3 separate regions of the Homo sapiens genome follow, and all the other regions are linked to region 1. Evidence: fine-mapped expression QTL. A gene starts in region 1. Each other region holds a variant in brackets. All regions are shown on one strand. Distances are from middle to middle.

Region 1 (6,693 bases):
ATACACAATAAGTCCCTTTTTGTGTGGTAAAAACAAACTACCTGAAAATAAATCTAAATGGCCATAACCTGGAAAATAGATCATCTGAAAGAAAATCAGCCATCAAAGGTATATCATGGCTTCTGTTAGGTAATGGGGAAAAAGGAATCATTGCGAACCTAATCAACCAGCTTCACCCCAACGACTGCCTTCTTTCTGCCCCCATCAGATTTCCATCTGGACGCCATTCGCCTTTTGGAATCCTTAATGAAACAATGAGTTCGGAGTCCAGAGAAAACAGAAAGGGTTAGGATCCCGACAAGGTAATCGTTTTCTTCTCTCCGGTTTTTGTAGGCCATCTTGTTCGAATAAACGCCAAGATGTCTTAATTTTCCCCAGGTGGTGTCACTGGAGGCAACGCCCACTGACAGTTTTGAGGCCACCTTCCCTTAATCAAATGACCAAAAAAGATCTGTCAAACGGTTAATTGATGCAAATTAAGAAAGCCACCCTCACTGCAGTAAGATATGTTACAGGAAAAAGAACAATGAACAGTACTAGAAAGGAAAATAACAGTGTGCGGGTACAAAATATTTAATCCACAATTTGCCTTCATCCTCATCAAGGCAAATCTTAATTTTGGTCAATTGAAATCAGCAAGAAAGCAAAAGATGAGAGACAGCCTGGAAAAGAAGAAACACACACACAGGCGGGAAAAACTGTCATTGGTGTCCAAGGGTTTCCCGCAACATTTAGGGCAAACGCCTTTGTTCCTCGGCTCGGGAGGGGAGTGGGTGGCTGGATGATGGAGATGGGATGGGGCTGCCGGGCCCTCCACACCCTGCTCTCCGGCGCATGCGCGAGGCCAAGACAAAGGAATAGGTAATTACAGTCCCGATTCATTCATTTTGCCTGCAGTATACTGGGGGTCTGTTGGCCCGGGCTGTAATCCCGGGAGGTGGGGGTGGGGGGTCGGTCCACAACCCTATAGCAGAAGGCCATTTCGACGCTAGTGTTGGGTTTTAGCCCGCCCCACAGTGCGAGTGGCCGCGGGGGAGACAGAGGTGTTGTCAACCTGTACAAGGTCCTAAAAAATGCACCCATGTGTGCTGTGCTAATTTCAGCAGAGTGAGAATTACATGGGCAAGGGCTGTCCACCGAGTTCGTTTCAAGGCGGAAATGTCTCTGGGGACGCAGATAAGGAGCCTGGCCAAGCGTTCGATGAATATTCATGAAAAGAATGCGGTTTGCAGCCGCGCATTGTGCGTGCGATCGGATCCAGGATTCCGCAATTTTTATTTTTCTGGAAATGGAGGGGGGACGGGGGCGGGGGGAGCAGGAACCGGGCGCCGGGTTTCAGCTTTAGCGCTTTGGGCAAAAGCTGCTCAACCCCAACCCTACGCTCCCAGCGGGGCTGAGCCCAGTTAGGGCCGCGCGCTGTCAGGTTCAAGCCCACACCCCCCGGGCCCGGGCCGGGGCCGGGACCCAGGGCGGAGGCGCCTGGCGCATTCTTGGAACCAAAGGCTCGAAAAAACAAACTGCTCCGAGGCAGCCCACGGGTTCGTAGGAAGGCAATTCCGCCACTGACGAGGCTGGGGCTCCGATCTGCTCGGGAGGTGCTTCTGAGTGCACGTCGCCGTGTGAACCTCGTATTCCTTGGCCCCAGAACCAAGATCCAGGAGTCCCATGGGTCGAGAAAACCCGTTTGCCAAAGCAAAAAGCCACCCACTTCCTTCTGATCGGGCCAGATTCCCCATCTTCTTTCTCCCCGGACTCCCGCCCCACCCCACCCCCACCCTCCATCTTTGGCTGCTGCGCCCCTCGCCCCGAGCGCTTTCTCCCAGGCTGGTAAGGGCTCCGATGACGGAAGCGCTCCCTTCAGCCCACAGAACCGTCTCCCCGGGACTCAACGCACTGAGGGGGTTTCGCATTCGGCAATTCCTCCCGTCACCCGCAGCTCCTCTCCCCGACAGCCCCCTCCCCCCAGCTCCGTTTACCAACCTCGCCGCCCCCCTCACCCCTCCACCATGCGAGCGGCTGAAGCCTCCCACTTCTGGGCCCCCCATCACCCGGGATCCCCGAAGTGCGACGGAGCCCTCACAGAGGGACCCCAGGCCCTTGCCGTCCAATCCGGGCCCACATCCCTGCTGCCCGCTGCATGAAGGGAGAGCCCGGGGGCTGCGGGGCGGGGCGCGGCGCGGTGGGGGACGGAGGCCCCCGGGTCCGCGGCGGCGCGGGGCCACCGGGCGCGCCTCCTTACCGGCTCTGGGTGCCTATGCAGCCCCTGAGTTAGCGCGGTGCCGCCGAGAGGCCGGGGTCGCTGGCGTCGTCTGGCTGGTGCCTGGCCGCTGGCGGAGGCTCTCTCCCGGCTCGACGGCGGAGCCCGGAGCGAGGAGCCAGTTGGAGCGCTGCCGCCGCCGTCGTCGCCGCTGCCGCTACTGCCGCCGCCGCCGCCGCTGCAGCCTCTGCATTTCTCGCGCTCGCTCCCCCTCCCCTTCCTGCCCAGTGCCCTCCCCCCGCGCGTCCGCCCGCCCAGCCTCCCTCCTCCCGCGCTCCCCGCCCGCCTCTCTCCCCTCCCTCCAGCCCGGCGCCCCGCCCGTCTCCCCTCCACCCCCTCCAGCTCCATCTCCCCACCCCCTGCACTCCCTCTGCTCCCCTCCCCTCCTCCGGCGCAGACCCTCCCCTCTCCCCTCCAGCCTGGACACGCCCGCCTCCCCTTGACTCCCCCCAGCTCTGGGCCCCCACCTCCCCTCCCCTCCAGCACAGTCACCCCCATTTCTCTCCTATCCGCCATCCTGGTTCCTCCCTTCCCCCCACCTCCCAACTCTGTGCCCCGCCAACGTTTCCTAAATGCCCTCTATTCAGATCCCCCCTCCGCCTCCCCTCTCCTCTCCTCCATTCCTGCGTCCCCCTTCCCCCGCCGCGCCGCCTGGGCTGTCCGTGGACTTCTCCCACTCTCTCACTCTCTCACTCACTCTCTCTCTCTCTCTCTCTCTCTCACTCTCTCTCTCTCTCTCCCCCTCATTTATTTGGAACCGTTGGATAAGAAGTGCTCGGGCTCTCGCTCAGACTTAGGGAGCTGCCTCGAGGTGATGAATGACACCCCCTGGCACCAGCTACCCTTCTCAGACCCCAGTCCAGCCCGCTCCCGACGTCGACTACGATTCCGCTACCTCGGCTGGCAGCGAGGTTGGGGTGAGCCCCAGCTGCAGGCGCGTCTGGGCTGCGCCGCTGCAAACGAGTTGCGCACCTTGGGCGGCTCCGCACCTGCACCCGCACCCGCGGGGCTCAGCCCCGAAGGCTGCAGCTTCGGGGGAGGCGCGGTCGCCGAGGTCCAGCTGGTGGGGCGAGAGACGTCGCCCCTCGGAGGATGCTCTCGGAACTTGGGAGAGGAAGGAGGGAAGAGAAGAGGGGAAAGGGGCCGTCGATGTTTTTGATGTCTGTGCTTTAATGGAGGCCACCAATATTGAGAAGACGGGGTTGGCCGAGGCAGCCCGCACGCTGCTGCTTGCGAGCGCTCGAGTCAAAGCTAGGGCCAACCGCGGCTTGTCCGGGTGCCCTAAGGGGGCGGACACTTGGTTTAGCACCGGGACACAGAATAGCCACCGGGGTAGGAAGATGCGTTCACTTTGCTTACCTGTTGGCAAGAGGGACATACAAAAATAACGTAACGTGACATCGTTGACAACGGTAGCTCTTTGATTACACAAAAGCCAATTTTACCTTCCCGCAAAAGCCAGTTGACGCCTTTGGAACTTTTATTTGCGGCATTTTGGCGCCCTCTGGCTGTGTTTGGATCGCTTTCATGCTCGCCTGCGTCCCAGCCAAGAAAAAATCGATGGAGCTGCAGGTTGTCCTCAGGATGGTTCTGCCCTCAGGACCTGGGCGTGAATTCAGGGACAGGGTGGCCCTCCAGAACCGGAGTGACAAACTGTAACCATACTTAGGGAGGCAGACGTCAAAGGCAAGTACATCTGTATTCAACTGGGTAAAGGTAAGTGCATTTTCACTTAACAGGAAAATTAACTTATCGTAACTTTAACGTACATATTTGAATTAAGCAAAGTGGCAATATTTACTCAACTGCACTAGCGATTTTGCAGTGGAAACACTTGACGACCCTACTGTACACATTTACAGGTCATAGGAGGCAGCACCAAATTAGATTAATGCATGCCAGCTGGAAATGTTCAAATTTAAACCAAAGGTAAGAAAAAAGCGGGAACTGTTTGTTTTTTCCTGTTTCTCTTTCTGCCATTTAAAGTGAAATAAAAAGTTAGTGTAGTAAAATACCAGGGAAGCAAATTACAAATGAGGTTGCTTCTAAAGCATTTTATTCTTTTGAATATTTATTTCCCTCACACCAGTACACCATCTATAAAGCTAAATGGAGGATGCAGGTTTTCCCACCTCCTTTTGGGGCCAGATATTTCTTTGTTGTGGAAGGCTGTCCTATGCACTGTAGGATGTCTGGCATTCATTGCTGGCCTCTACTAGCAGCCAGTACCACCCTCCACACACACCACCAGCACCAGCACCAGTTGTGACAACCAAAAATGTCCCCAGATATCGCCAAATGTCTCCTGGGAGGCAAAATCACTCCAGGCTGAAAACCACTGAGCTACATTTTCTTTCAACCTCTATGAGCAAGTCTCTAGGTTTTTACCCTATCGAATTAGATGAATATTTGCAATGTTCTGCTCAAGACATTTCCTGAGTTTGTTAGAGGAGCTGCCTACTTGTTCATTTAGCATTCAGGGTTTTTATCCTTGTGATCTTCCAGGCATGTAAATCATCTAAAAATTAGCAAATACATTTCCTCATTGTATTTGCAGTCTAAGCCTGTGGGTGTTATCTTCCTTCTCTATTCTCTTTTTCCAATTTTTCCAAAAAAAAAAGACAACATAAAAATTAATGTTCAGTACCTTCAGTGCTTCCAGCTAAATTTTCATGATGGAGAAAACAAACCTTTCAAAGGTGTGATTGGAATACAGATCACGGGTTACCATAGAAACCGGAGGCAAAAGCTTACACCAACAAGGAGAACTGCAGGTCTCCTTAATTTTGTCTTCCATCAGATTTAGTTGTTCTCTTAAAACATTTTTTTAAATTTTTTTAAAGGAGGGTGAGAATTCATTTTCAATGAGATAATGATGCAACTGACTGATAGTGCTATTAATCTTTAGAAGCTTTTACAGAATTTGTAGGTTTGCAGCAAATGGTTGCCAAAATGTTACCTCTCAATGTAACAATATTACTATATAAAATCCAATTTGGCGATGTTTTTAGTCTAATTTTTAGTTGTTCATCTAATATCATACTTTTTAATGTGTATGCTCTTTAAAACATTTTTTTAAACTGATGCTTAGGGAATAAATGAATAAACCTTTAAAGTTCTGAATTTTAGAAAACTGTTAACATTAACTATTGTGAATGTGTCTGTTTACATTATAGACTAATGATCTTGAGAACAAATATTAAGGGTGTAATTTATGATAAATTTAATTAGCTTTCACCATTATGCTCATGAAAAAAAGACTGTTTTACTCTCCAAATGGAATGAATGCATTTGTTTTTGACAAACAAAGCTGGATTTCATCGGTTATAAACTGAATTCCATTGTCATTTTTAATTGCCTGCATAACTTGCTCCAGGGAAGCATAACCTGCATTATGAAAATCATTATCCAAAAGATAAATTATTCGTGATTACTAATTTTTTTCTAAAAGATTTGTCTTTGCTTGCAATATAATGGTCTCATTGTCATTTAAATTACTAGTCAGTTTACAAAAATTTCCATGTGCCTTCAGCTTTTCAAATCATATCTATTGTGTCAACTAAGACACCTACAATAGATAATTATACAGACCTCATCAAGCCTCAAAACCTCACTCTTATCTTCCCTCTCCCCACCTCCCACATCACCCACCAAGGCCTAGCGTCTTTCTCAGTTCCCCATCCTTTCCTCTTAAATAGTAAAAAGAGGATTAAAATCTCAAATAAAAGATGTAGAACAAGAATGAAGCAGAAGCATGGTGACAGTAGTGTCACCCGAGTGTGACTCTAGCCACCTTTGCTTGACATCTTTCTGGATAGTTCCTGTTCAAGGCCACTGCATTAACCCAAACCCTCAGAAACCCATTTAGAGAATTTGAAAGTAAATTCAGCTCTACTGGTAAGTTTTCCGTGGAGGACCAACTTGCTGCAATTTGTTTACAAAATCTTATCTGCAAATTGCAAGCAAAAGGCCAGACAGTATTACAGATGAAAGTGTACGGCTTTTTTTCTCTTAAATATATTTATAATTTTTTAACCAAAGGAAAATATTGAAATCTATATATTCGTCTGTCTTCCTTCCTACCCCAACCCTACCCAACCCCACGAGAGTCATTCTGGGCCAAAATGTCAATAATGGCAAGGTTGAGAAACCCAGGTTTAAATGAGCATCAAGTTGCTGCCCAGTTGGAAAATACCTGATCTTTTTTTTTTTTTTTTTTCTAAGAGCGCATGCTGCAGAGGGAAGCTGCCTCTTCCTGTGGCTTAAGGTATCTTCAGCAGGGCAAAAGGCTTGGAGGCACAAAATTTAATGGAGAAATTTTAACAAGGGCCTGCAATGCACAATGTGCGCTAAGCCCTTCATTAACCACCATTCTCCACTATAACACAAATTGAGGCAATAGTTTCAAGAGGTATGTCAAAGATTAAAAGCAATGA
Region 2 (6,693 bases), 23 kb before region 1:
GCAGGCAAATCATCTGAGGTCAGGACTTCGAGACTAGCCTGGCCAACGTGGCGAAACCCTGTCTCTACTAAAAATACAAAAATCAGCTGGACGTGGTGGTACGCACCACGCCCATAGTCCCAGCTACTCGGGGGGTTAAGGCACAAGAATTGCTTGAACCCAGAAAGTGGAGGTTGCAGTGAGTCAAGATCGCGGCCCTGCACTCCAGCCTGGGCGACAGAATGAGACTCCCTCTTAAAAAAAAAAAAAAGCAAGAATTTAAGTCTCAGTGGCTTTATCATGATGCCCTTTTGTCACCTAGCATGTTAGCATGTCAACTTGCTGGGGGCAACAGACTACAGGTGTTCCAGAATGTTCCATTTCCCTTTACACACATGATCTGGTTTCATACCCAGATTTTCAGAAAGGCACAGACTTACAGGGACGACAACACTTAAAAAACATTTTACAAGCACATGTTCACTTATTTCAAGACATGTCCTCCCTGCCCCCAAACACAAAGAAATCCTTTTAGAAGGAAAAAAAAATGCTTACGATTACCTTTTTTTTTTTTTAAACTGAGTTGACTTTTTTTTTCCTAGACTTACTTCGACTCCTCAAGGACATTAGCACGCAGAGCAAGGATGTACCGTTACAAATAACATCATTTTCTGTTGTTTAAAGTTATAACACAAAGCATTACAGATACTTTAAACAGATTATTAATAAGCACAATGATGTAACAAATGCACTTACGATCATTTAATCCCCCTTAAATTAAAATAAGAAGCCCTGACTTGAGCATTTATAAAGAGATAAAATTATGCTACTCTAATTGGAGATACGTGTCATTATAAATTTGTCCAAACTCACAGAAGGTACAACACCAAGAGGGAACCCTAATGTAAACAAAGGACTTTGGGTGACAATGATGTGTCAATGCAAGTTTATCAATTGTGACAGACGTATTCTGCTGGGGGATGTTGATAATGAGGGAAACTATGCATGGGGTGGGGGGCGGCGCAAGACTTATATGGGAAACCTCCGTACCTTCCACTCAATTTCGTGTGAACATGAAACTGATCTAACAAATAAAGTCGAACAAAAAAGAGAAATAAAACCACAGGACCATTCTCACCCGCACTCATCACAGGTATATATATACAAAAACTTCTACTATTTCTTGCATTTTAATAACAACTGAGTCATTGATCAAATTTAAATGAAAACAGGAGTTACACATTCACTATGGTTGAGAGTAATTGCTAAAACTATTAATGGTGCATCAAAGAACGCCTTCCTAGTCGAAGGAGGGGAATGAAAGGAGAGCATGATTTCACCCCTTCCTCAGCCAATCAAGAAAGCATACAGAATAGACGTGAATGAGAGAGGTGTTTTCTTTTAGAGATATCCATTCACCCTTAAAATGTGGGACACTCGCATTTTGTAGAGACACAGTGCAGTTCAGTATCTCGGTTGAGAGTTCCTTCCTTCCCCCATTTAATTAAATGCTGAAGTTTGTGTTTCAGAAAGCCCTGAGTTTGCGTGCCAGCTCCACGTACTTGTTTTGCAGCCTTGTCCTTAAATCCTGCAGCTCTTGGTTGGAGCTTCTGTTTTGTTCCTGTGAACTGTCCCCACAGGTCTGACTCCTGCAGAGCACAGTTGAAGGGACAGGAGAGAACATCGAGGGACACCCATGGTGGCACACACTGGCTCACTCCAGTTCCTGCACAGATCTACGAAAGCTTCAGGGCCTCGTTCACTCCCAGCAAATGCAGCAAATATACAGCACTTAAAGAAGTCACAGGAACATTACTCAAACTGGAAGCAAAACAATAATTTTCTTGTTGACTGATATGCTTCCAGCAAATGAGAGACATGCAACATGAACTAAGATGTTCTGGGTTACACTGGCTACGTAACCTATTATTAATTTCTCTGTGCCACAGTTTCTTCATTTGTACAATGGGATAATAATAGAATCCACCCCACCTAGCTGCTGTATTTTAAAATGTCAATCTTTGGGCCAGGCGCAGTGGTTCACTCCTGTAATCACAACACTTTGGGAAGCTGAGGCAGGCAGATCACTTGAGGCCTGGAGTTCAAGACCATCCTGGCCAACATGGCGAAACCCCATCTCTACTAAAAACACAAAAATTAGCCGGGACTGGTGGTACATGTCTATAATCCCAGCTACTCAGGAGGCTGAGGCACAAGAATCGCTTGAATCTGAGAGGTGGGAGTTGCAGTGAGGCGAGATCACATCACTGCACTCCAGCCTGGGCAACAGAGCAAAACTCGGCCTCAAGAAAAAAAAAAAAAAAAGGAAAATGTCAATCTGTGTAAAGCTTAGAATGTGGCCTGCCTGGCACATGCTAAGCACTAGGCAAGCCTGTGCTCACCAGACTACAAGGTGTTATTTTGTAATGTTATAATTAAAAGAAACTATTAAATATTTTTAAATGCCATTGCAAAAATAAATCTTTGCCTAGTTTTGCCTTCTCTGTAACGATGGTTTTATGTTTCCAACTTAAGATCAAAATCACAAGAGTTTTATCTTTTTGTTTAGTAGGTACCCTAACAAAATACCTTAGATTGGGTAATTTATAAAGAATCAATACTTACTTCTCACAGTTCTGTAGGTTGGGAAGTCCAAGATCAAAGACAAAAGGGGACTAGGGCACTCCCTTCAACTTTTTTATTTTCCAAAATATATGGAATGCTTCACAAATTTGCACTGTCATTCTTGCATAGCAGCCATGTTCATCTCTATATGGTTCCAATTTTAGTATATGTGCTGATGAAGTGGGCACATTATTTCTCTTTTTTTAAAGAGTCAGAACCTCACTCTGTTTTTTATTTTATTATTTTATTTTACTTTATTTTATTGAGAGGAGTCTCACTCTGTCACCCAGGCTGAAGTGCAATGGCGCAATCTCAGCTCACTTCAACCTCTGCCTCCCAGATTCAAGTGATTCTCCTGCCTCAGCCTCCTGAGGAGCTGCAATCACAGGTGCCCGCCACCACGCCCAGCTAATTTTTGTATTTTTCAGTAGAGACAGGATTTCACCATGTTGGCCAGGCTGGTTTCAAACTTCTGACCTCAGGTGATCTGCCTACATCGGCCT[A/C]CCAAAGTGCTGGGATTACAGGCGTGAGCCACCATGCCCGGCCAGAGCCTCACTCTGTTGCCCAGGATGGAGTGCAGTGGCATGATCACGGCTCACCCCAGCTTCAAACTCCTGGGCTCCAACCTGTTATTTATTTATTTATTTATTTATTTATTTATTTATCTTTATTTTTATTTTTTTCCCAACATGTTCTATAAGAGCACTAATCCCATTAGTGAAGGTGGAATAATCATGACCTCGACATTTCCCAAAAGGCCCCAGCTCTTACTTAATACCATCACACTGGGCATTAGGTTCCAACGTAGGAATTTTGGTGGAACACATATATTCAAACCATAGCATAGGGTCACTTTAAAATTACATCTCTATAAACAGTTCTGACTACAAAACTAGACAAATGAAAAGAAGCAACACCTCCATGCTACCAGGATAAAATTTCCAAAGACCTCATTACAACGGTTACCAGCAAAGAGGATTTTGAATTAGTACAAATTCACAGATTTTGGGGGTAATCTGGACTAAAAGAGTTCTACTTCACTAATTTAAGCCTGTGTTTTCAAATGAAGGGCAGTATCACATGCAAATACAACACATATATCCAAATTCCTAACTGGGTCCTAACTAGGATCAGCTTTACTTTGCAAGGCTCTAGAACAAAGATAACCAAAGTTGTATTACAAGATTGACAGCCTAGGGTATTTAAACACATCCTGACATTGACACCAAGACCCCAGGGTGAGTGTGGGGTCAACGGTTATAACCAAAAATATGGCCTTCTGTTCCATGTACTAACACACTGATCTGTTTTATTTAGATACTGAGTTTAGTAACCTCAAGAATTATTTACCGTAGTGAATAGGGAGAATTTCCACATTTGCCAAGGCTTTCTTTACGAAAGAGCTGGGCCGGGTGCAGTGGCTCACACCTGTAATCCCCGCACTTTGGGAGGCTGAGGCGGGCGGATCACAAGGTCAGGAGATCGAGACCATCCTGGCTAACATGGTGAAACCCCGTCTCTACTGAAAATACAAAAAATTAGCCAGATATGGTGGCGGGCACCTGTAGTCCCAGCTACTCAGGAGGCTGAGGCAGGAGAATCACTTGAACCCGGGAGGCAGAGGTTGCAGTGAGCTGAGATCATGCCACTGCACTCCAGCCTGGGTGACAGAGCGAGACTCCATCTCAAAAAAGAAAAAAAAAACAGCTGAAGACAGGATGTAAGATTTAGTCAAGTGTTGATTGATATCAAGTAAGGAAGGGAATTGTGTGGTTTTATTCCCCAGCTATTGGATGAACTAAACTGAGCTGACTTCTTACAGGGCTAACATGAGCAAGCACTGAACCAACTGTCCTTTCCTACCCGTTGATCAGACAGCTGGGAAGTCCTCTTGAAGGGAAAGATATTAAAATTTACTGAAGATAACCAAAGTTGAACGGAAAACAGATGATTAATAACTGACACTCAAAAAGAACATTCCACACATTCTTTGAAAACGCATGGAGTCATATCAATATTTAAATACAGTTCACTATGAGTCATGTTTAAATAGTCATATAATTGATGCCATACATCAGATATTTATCAGAAAGCATGAACCATTCGTGGTGCTGGAAAAGAAGATGACAAACTAGGGAAGAGATGGCAGGAGATGAAGGGGAAAAGTAGGTCAGGTTCAGATTTGGAATGAATGCGGTGATGCCTCAGTACATTCAGATGAGACTATCTGGGGATCAGGCGAGCATTTTTATCCCAGCTTCCATGGTTTCCACAGAGCACTTGCATCAAATGCTAGACACACAATACTAAAGGTTTCTCCTCACTGTTCTGAAGCTTGACGTTAGTCTCCATTAACACTTAACTACAGGTTTCATCAAATAGACGTCAAATTATTTCCAAGATAAACATCAGTAGGTGTTAGTTGAAAGGGAGGGGAGGGAGACTCAGCTTCTTCTGTTTCTTTTAAGTTTTATTTTGGTTTCGATAAAAAAAAAACTCAGATAGCCAGCTACGTAGAATGAATTGACTGAACAGTGACCACTTTTCCTGCATAAGACAGCTGAGATGAGGAAGACAACCAAATGAATCTGGAAGATTTCAAAGAAAATGTCCAGTGCTGTACTGAAAAAAAGAGGGTAGTTTAAATAGAAAAAATATATTAATAGAAAGGCACCGAGACAAACAAGTCACAAACCAAATAAAGTGTCAATAGGAGTGCCAATCAAACTGTGTATATCCATCCAAAAGAGAGAAGGCCACTGAGAACAAGAATCCCCCAAATAAGCATTTATGTAATTAAACAGCCTCTTAACATACGTTGTGTTTCATACATGCTTGGCGAACACTGAGAACTACAGGTAATCTTACTTTAGAAAGCAATGTCAGGGGGCCGGACACAGTGGCTCATGCCTGTAATCCCAGCACTTTGGGAGGCCGACGTGGGTGGATCACTTGAGGTGAGGAATTCAAGACAAGCCTGGCCAACATGGTGAAACACTGTCTCTACTAAAAATTCAAAAATTAGCCAGGCATGGTGGTGCATGCCTGTAGTCCCAGCTACTCGGGAGGTGGAGGCAGGAGATTCACTTGAACCCAAGAGGTGGAGGTTACAGTGAGCCACTGCACTACAGCCTGAGTGGCAGAGCGAGACTCCATCACGGAAAAAAAAAAAAAAAAGCAATGTCAGGGGACACTCACCTAGCAAGAACCAGATTATAGAACCTGTTTAAGCATCTTATTTCCAGAGACCTGTAATGTGTGCAAGCTCAACTATAGATTTAGGCAATTTTCTTTCTTCAAAATGAGCCATACCGAAGTCACTAATGTTAAGAACAGGTTCTCAGTCTGTGCTTTAATCCAGAAAAGCATTCTGGGTGAGCTCAGTGAGAGTTCTTTGGGTCCTTCATTAGATAGCCTTATCACCTTTCTTTCTTTTTTTTGTTTTGTTTTGTTTTGAGACGGAGTCTCGCTGTGTCGCCCAGGCTGGAGTGCAGTGGTGCGATCTCGGCTCACTGCAAGCTCCGCCTCCCGGGTTCACGCCATTCTCCTGCCTCAGCCTCCCAAGTAGCTGGGACTACAGGCGCCCACCACCACGCCCAGCTAATTTTTTGTATTTTTAGTAGAGACAGGTTTTCACGTGTTAGCCAGGATGGTCTGGATCTCCTAACCTCGTGATCCGCCCACCTCGACCTCCCAAAGTGCTGCAATTACAGGCGTGAGCCACCATGCCCAGCCACCTTATCACCTTTCTTTACAATACCTCCATCAAGAATTCTTGGTTGTTTACTACCCGGTGGGCTGGTAGATTTCATTAGCTTTCAAAGTATACAGAAAAATCTCAGCTTTTGAAAATTCCAGAGGAATGACACAGTAGCGCAAGCAGCTTTTTAAATATACAGAATTTTGTTTTATTTACATCGACTGCCTATTAAGAATTTTTTTCTGAAGATTAGAAGATACCAAGAAAAGTACTAAAAACATTTTTTTCCCTTAAGATATGGGTCTAGTTAAGAGTGCATTGCTCACCATATTTGAACCACTCAGCTTTCAGATATCAGGGTCTTCATATCTTTAATTCCTATTATTAAA
Region 3 (6,693 bases), 230 kb before region 1:
TGTCATCATTCACCTCAAGCACCAACTTCCACAGTCACACCATGAATTTGGTTAACATTGGAAACTGCACTTCAGATAATTCTGCAATAATATAAATACCTTCACAAACACCACCACCACCATCTTCAACTTCCCTTTCCAATGGCCTTGTTTTCGTCCCCTCATACAACACTTCTACCTATCAAGAACTGCAATCCAGTGACACTTCAACTTTCTCTACATTCATCAGCCTCCTCAGCTCTCCACATCTCTCCATCAGTACAATGTCACCTCCCTCCCCCGTGTCCACCTCCAACTCCTGGCTTCGTATTTTATCTGGCCTATTCCTATTCATCCTTACTCGTACCGCTTTCTTAGAAAGGGGCTATCCAGACTTCTAAGCTAGATGATGTTCTTCTGTTAAGCCACCTTGTAAGTTCTTTGTGCTTTTCTTAGCTATTATTCAAGCACAACAATGATCATATTGCAATTAATGTCATTGTGGATTTGAACATGGAAGGTCTATTTTATCCTAGATTGTAAATTGGTTAAGAGCAGAGATCATGACTGTTTTACTCTCAATTACATATGTCAACTAACACCATGCCTGGCACATAGAAGGCACTCTAGGAATATATGTGGAGTCACACACACACATACACATACTTATGCATACACACTCATACACTTACCCATGAAGATTTCTTCCAGTAAATGGGTATCTGTATTATGCAAGCAACATGAAATCAGAAAGAACATTTTGGGGTTTTTGCTGCCTAACACCAAAACTAATTGCAGCCACTCTTCAAAAAAATGCAATAACTTTATAAACAGCCACATCCTGATTCTTACGGTTGAAAGCTCTCCATTCTCTGCTGAATATTCATCCGTTGAGAGGGACACTAGCCTAGAAGCTCAGCACTTTCTGAAAAGAGAAGCAGCAGGAATAGAAGATGTGTGGAGAGGAAAGAAAGTCAAAGGCAGGCTCCTGCAATGCAAAGGTGCCAGGAACAACGGTGCAATCCCAGGCTGTGTAACACAGGATGGAGGAGGGAGATCTCACTTTTATTGTAAATAGCAGAATTCTTTAAAGGTAGCTACATTAGCAATCAGATCTCATAGATGCTGGAAACACAAACACCTCCTTTCTCATTAAGGGTAGGGGGATCCAGCATAATTTCTCTGGACCAGGAAGATGGAGGAGTCTTACTTCTCTTGCCTTCCAACTGCATCCCCCACTCAATCCTAGATTGCACAAGGAAGTCAACACTACCTCCCCCAACAAGCTCCAAATCCCTCTCTTCACAGCATTGTCAATTGAATCTCTTCATCCAATCTTGGAAACAGTCTGGAAAAAGAAGCAGAGGAGAGAAGAAAGGGGAAAAGTTCAAAAGTACTTTAAACTCTGCCAAAAAAAATCAATTAGTACCAATATACACAGAGAAATGAATGACAGAAGTCATCGCAGCAAGGTATTTCCTCATGACTCCTTCAACTGGCCAGGGCCAAACCAAGGTGTGCAAATAATCTGAGCAACTGTACACTTTGGCACACCTTTGCTATGTATACATACCTTCAATATGTATTTACAGAAGCTGGAAATTGCACAGGGCAGGACCAGGAAAGAACGGGCAGAAATGTTCAACTGCATGGCCAATGTCCTGAGCTTTAGCCCCAGAGTTGTGTGTCCTACTCTGAAGCCCTACAAGTCATAGGACCCATTCACCCCAGAGCCAGTGCAGCCTATTTCTTTGAGATCTCAGTCCCATCTCTCTAATGGTATCAAAGAACCCTCCATTTACATTTAGTGCTCTCTTTGAAAGGAGCCATGATAGACTTTAATCCAAATTTACAAAAAGAAAAACTGGATTCCAAAGAACGATATAATTAGCATAAATACTGGGACTACACACTGCCACATAATAAAACAGAAAGCATCAAAATATATAATTGTGTATAGCACCTATACACTAGCATAGGTCAAACAGCTGAATGATTAAAGGAGTTTTGTTTTGTTTTGTTTTAATCAGTCAACTAGGAACTTCTTAATGCAGTCACTTTGGCATGATACAAACAAAATCTTTCAAACTACAACACATCTTAGAAACAGCAAATACTACTGCTGTTCACGTAGCAAGGAAGGTTACAAGTAAATCTCCCAATATCTCAGGTGTAAAGAAGTGTTCTAACAAGGTCCATTTGTATTAAATCAAATCACCAGACTAAGGCATCTATTTTGCACCACTTACTCAGAGCAACAGACAAAAAGACAGGCCTTTGGGTTTATTTATATAAACATTCTTCCACAGGTAGTCACAGAGGAGGAAGGAGTACAATGTAATTTGATGGTGGATGAATTTGCACAAAAAGGAGACTAAAAAAGAAAGATTATTGTGACCCAACACTCACTCTTTACTTTTTAAAGTTGTGGGGAAAAGAAATGGCAAAGCTTTCTATTTCTGTAAGCTTTTGTTGTAAAGAATTGAATAAAAAATAGCAATACCTAATCATCTCTAAATTACTTCAACTAAAAACACCACTAAAGACCTTATAATCTTTTTTTAAAAAATTCATTCTCATAATTTCTTCCTTGGCCCTGAAAACGATGGTTTAAAAATAGCTTGATTTGCATCTTATTCTTTTACTGCCTTTCTACAAATACATTTTGAAATGCTTGCTTACGGAAAAGCTGTTGCCTGCTTAGCTTTCATCATGTATGAGATCACACTATTTCGCTCACCTGGAACTGTCGTGTTCTCTGTTCCCAGCAACGGTCCGATAAGGAGCATCCTTGCTAAATGATATGTTTAAAGTATGTATAGCTACGTGTATTTTCAAATGCATAACCAATTTCTTAAAAGAGATGGTAACTCATGCCAGAAGCAAGGAAAAGATTGAAAGGCAGGCCTGGAAACAGAGCTGGCCCAGTAGCAGCTCCAAATATGTCAAAATGCTAGTGTTATTTAAGACACCGATACAATATCCCTGATGATGAAACAGGAAACGTTCCCTTGCGCCACCCGCAGGGTGTGCAACAGGAGGAGTGGCTCGCTTCTTCCGTGCCCCACTGCTCAAACCTCTAGGGGAGCATGCGGACGGCTG[G/A]GTTGTGGGGCTCCAACCCAAGAGCAGTGTCTAGGGGTGAATGTTTACAGCTGAAGCCCCAGTGGGCACACGTGTGTTACAGGGTGCTCTTTTAGTTTTGCCATCTGTAGGCGACTTGTGTTAGTCAGCTCAATTAGACCCCCTGGCTTATCTCAAGGACAGAGGACTTTCTGTATCCCAGGGTCCTTGCCTTGGTGTACCGGAAGAATCAGATCACACGTGGGCTTGGAGAATGAGTTCAAGGTTTTATTGAGAGGAAGTAGCTGTGAGCAGACAGGGGAGACAGAAGGGAGATGGAGTGGGAAGGTGTAGTTTCCTGGAGTCAGGCCACCTAGCGGCCTGGCTCTCCTCCAACCACGCAGCCAAACTCCATGTCCTTCCGCCAGTCGATGGCCTGCCAGGGTCTGCCTGTCGGCGTGCTCTTGTTGACGTCCTCTGGACGTCCAGCCGCTTGTGTGAGTGCCCACTAGTGTTTCGGGGTTTTTATAGGCACAGGATGGGGGCGTGGTGGGCCAGGGTGGTCTTGGGAAATGCAACATTTGGGCGCAAAGGCAGGAGTGCCTGCCCTTACCTAGGTCTGTGGGCACAGGCACCGGGGTGAAGCCCTCGCCAGAGACCTGCTTTCTCCTCCCAGCACTTCCCTGCCCCCCTCCCTTATCAATAACATCTGCATTTGTAGCTGGGTAACCAGGGTATTCTTCATACAGCTGCAAGTATCTGGCTAATATATTGATAGGGTTTGGATCTGTGTCCAGGCCCAAATCTCACGTTGAATTGTAATCCCAGTGTTGGGGGTAGGGCCTGGTGAGAGGTGATTGGATCATGGAGGAGGATTTCTCATGAATGGTTTAGGACCATCCCTTTGGTGCTGACGGCAAGACAGTGAGTGAATTCTCAAGAGAGAGTTCTGGTTGTTTAAGAGTGTGTGGCACCTTGCTCGCTCTCTCTTTCTTGCTCCTGCTTCAGTCACATGAGGTGCCTGCTCTCATTTCACCTTCCACCATGAGTCAAAGTTCCCTGAAGCCTCCACAGAAGTAGACCCAATATGTTTCCTGTACAGCCTGCAGAACCGTGAGCCAATTAAAGCTCCTTTCTTATAAATTACACAGTCTCAGGTATTTCTTTATAGCAATGCCAGAACAGCCTAATACATACATTATGTCTTCAAGTGGGGGTGAAGACATGCTGAACATTTACTTCTTGAAATATCCACTATATGATAGTCAGGGTGTTGTATGTTTAAAGCATGTATGTGTATAGCTTACGTTATTAAAAATTATTGTTTTAGAATAGAAAAAGGAAGAGTGATAAAATATTAGGCTGAACCATATGAAATTGCTGATATTTTATAACTTTTAGTCAACAAAATTCTCAAATGAGAGCTTTGGGTCCAATAAGTTTGCTTTGCCCCAGGCAACTTGCCCCACTAGTGTAATTCGGGGTCAAGCCATGTGCAAGACTATCAGACAGTTTGCACATCCAAGCATGACCACTCCATGCTCTATTATGCTAAGACAGTCTCTGTAACTTTTCTGCTTTGAGTTAAGTTACATAAGTCCTCTTTCTGTTACCCAACATTTGTGGGTGCCAGGTCCCTGAAAGGAAGCTATAGGAGCAGGTAAAAATTCTTTCCATATTTATTTGTGTGGAATTTTTACTTTTTGACTGTATACCAGATGTAAGGAAGTGTTCTTGCTCTAGGGCCATCTGTCATTGCAGAGGTAGGATAGATTCACATAATGATAGAGTAGAAAAAAATAAGTAAAGTGACCCAGGTTTAAATCCTGTCACCTGCTGTTATTGGTTGTGTTTCACTTCTTGACCTACAGAATCCTTGTCTATAAAACTGAACTGGGGACCGTGCCTAGTCATGTAAGTTCATTGTAAAATTCAAACAAAACAAAGTCTGTCAAGGATTTTGAAATGCCAAGATACAACCATGTGATCAGGGAAATTTACATAAAGAACAGAGTTGGGATCATGATATTAGAAAAACCAGAGAGCGATCGGACACAATGGTTCACACCTATAATCCCAGCACTTTGGGAGGCCAAGGCAGGTGGATTGCTTGAGTCCAGGAATTCAAGACCAGCCTGGGCAACAAAGCAAGACCTTATCTTTACAAAAAAAAAATATTAAAAAAAAAAAAAACAGACAGAAAACTAGAGTGGGCCAAAGTTAAGGGCTCTAGAAGTTCAATTCCAAAAGGAATATTTATTCAGAACGCATCAAAGGGTCTACTGGAATTGGAAACACAGTCATCATTCTTAAGGATAAGAACAGCCAATTCCTTAGATGCAGGTCTTCTGAGTCAGTGGACTCCACACTCCTGGGCTTGCATCCAGATTATCATCGACTTCTGTACTGATGCTTGCAGGGGAGGCTCCGTGGACTCCCTGTATATCTGGACACACAGAAAAAAAGGACAGTCAAGTTTTTCATGTTGGACAGTAAGAATTTAATTTGTAATCTCTATTTGTCACATATGTCCATACTTTTCTTTGTGATAGTCTCATCTGAAGCTTCTGGAAAAATAGGGGAAGATCTTATGGACTGTTAGGTTGGAAGAACATAGCTGCCCAAGGCTTCTTAAAAGTTGACCCTAAGGGGACTTGTGGTTATAAATAGAATGCCGTTAGTTGCAGGAGAATACAATCCTGTTAGACTAACTAAAAACGACAAATTAATTGCAAAAAAAATCCATATAAAGAGATCAGTGAATTATGGAAACAAAAAGAATTAAAAGAACAAAAATTCCAGAGAGCAGAGTGTTTTGCCAAGATTAGCTACCTTTCACAGGCTATTTTCTTTCTTGGGATGTTTGCTGATTTGAAACACAGATCAGATCTGGTTCATGCAGAAGCACTGTAGGAAGGAAAGAGAAGCCAGCAAAGCTTGTGGCATTCATAGAAGCAACCACAACAATTTGGAAACAAAAGTATCCCCAAATGCCTTGCCAATTTTCCTCATAGTACCCTTGCTAAATTGAGGCTGAGTAAAAGGTTAGGAGTTTCTGCAAAGTAAGTTAAAATCTTCAGAAGTCCCATAATAATTGGGAGGAAAAGTTCCACTGGAGGAAAGGAGTCTGCTCAGAAGGTGGCTGGTCTCCCCAAGATTCTCATCAAATTTGGATGGAGCATACGGCAGGATACTACACAGCCCGAAACTTCCACTTTCTTTCAGAGCTGTCAATCAACAGTGTGGAAGAGACAGGCCTGAGGAATAAAAACATAGCTAGAAGTGGAGAGGATTTTACTAAAATGTCAACCCAGTCTTGACCTAGTTCAGCCTCTTGGATTGGGGTGATCACCTCCTCACCTTATCTGCCCCACAGAGAAAGCACAGATTCCTATCTGGTCGAAGTAGCATCATACAGAGCTTTGACATGTGCTTTGTCCACAATATCTGGCATACAGTCACATATTACTAACATAAAAAGAGGCAAGAGATTGTGATCAATTACCAGGTGAAACATACAAACAACATAAGCAGATGCAAAGAAAGAAAATGATATTTTATTTAGCATCTTAAAATTACATTTTGATACAATGATCAATATAGTAAAGAGATTGAAAGACAATATGAATGAAAGTGATGAAAAGATGTGGGGTT

What was found. PIP is the estimated chance that this variant, and not a neighbour inherited with it, causes the effect.
Region 2: its variant is the best candidate, but not a certain one, in a credible set for the expression of BASP1 in monocytes (TOPMed, PIP 0.57).
Region 3: its variant is the best candidate, but not a certain one, in a credible set for the expression of BASP1 in whole blood (INTERVAL, PIP 0.72).

Annotation. Positions count from the first base shown.
Region 1 is chr5:17,213,357-17,220,049 of GRCh38, reverse strand. It overlaps BASP1 (brain abundant membrane attached signal protein 1), which reads right to left and starts at 2,419. Exons shown (of 2, transcript NM_006317.5): 1 at 2,240-2,419. BASP1-AS1 (BASP1 antisense RNA 1) reads left to right here and starts at 2,628. Exons shown (of 3, transcript NR_027253.1): 1 at 2,628-3,973. RefSeq lists an enhancer at 519-1,299 and silencers at 1,334-1,653, 2,144-2,623.
Region 2 is chr5:17,236,710-17,243,402 of GRCh38, reverse strand. All of the region lies in intron 1 of BASP1 (brain abundant membrane attached signal protein 1), which reads right to left. It also overlaps the pseudogene RNU6-1003P. Among named protein-coding and RNA genes, the nearest start is that of BASP1, 22 kb to the right of the region's middle. The variant A/C (reference allele first, on the strand shown) is at 3,108.
Region 3 is chr5:17,440,261-17,446,953 of GRCh38, reverse strand. LINC02217 (long intergenic non-protein coding RNA 2217) reads right to left here. Exons shown (of 2, transcript NR_134275.1): 2 at 5,260-5,485. LINC02218 (long intergenic non-protein coding RNA 2218) reads right to left here and starts at 2,944. Exons shown (of 3, transcript NR_134270.1): 1 at 2,720-2,944. The variant G/A (reference allele first, on the strand shown) is at 3,082.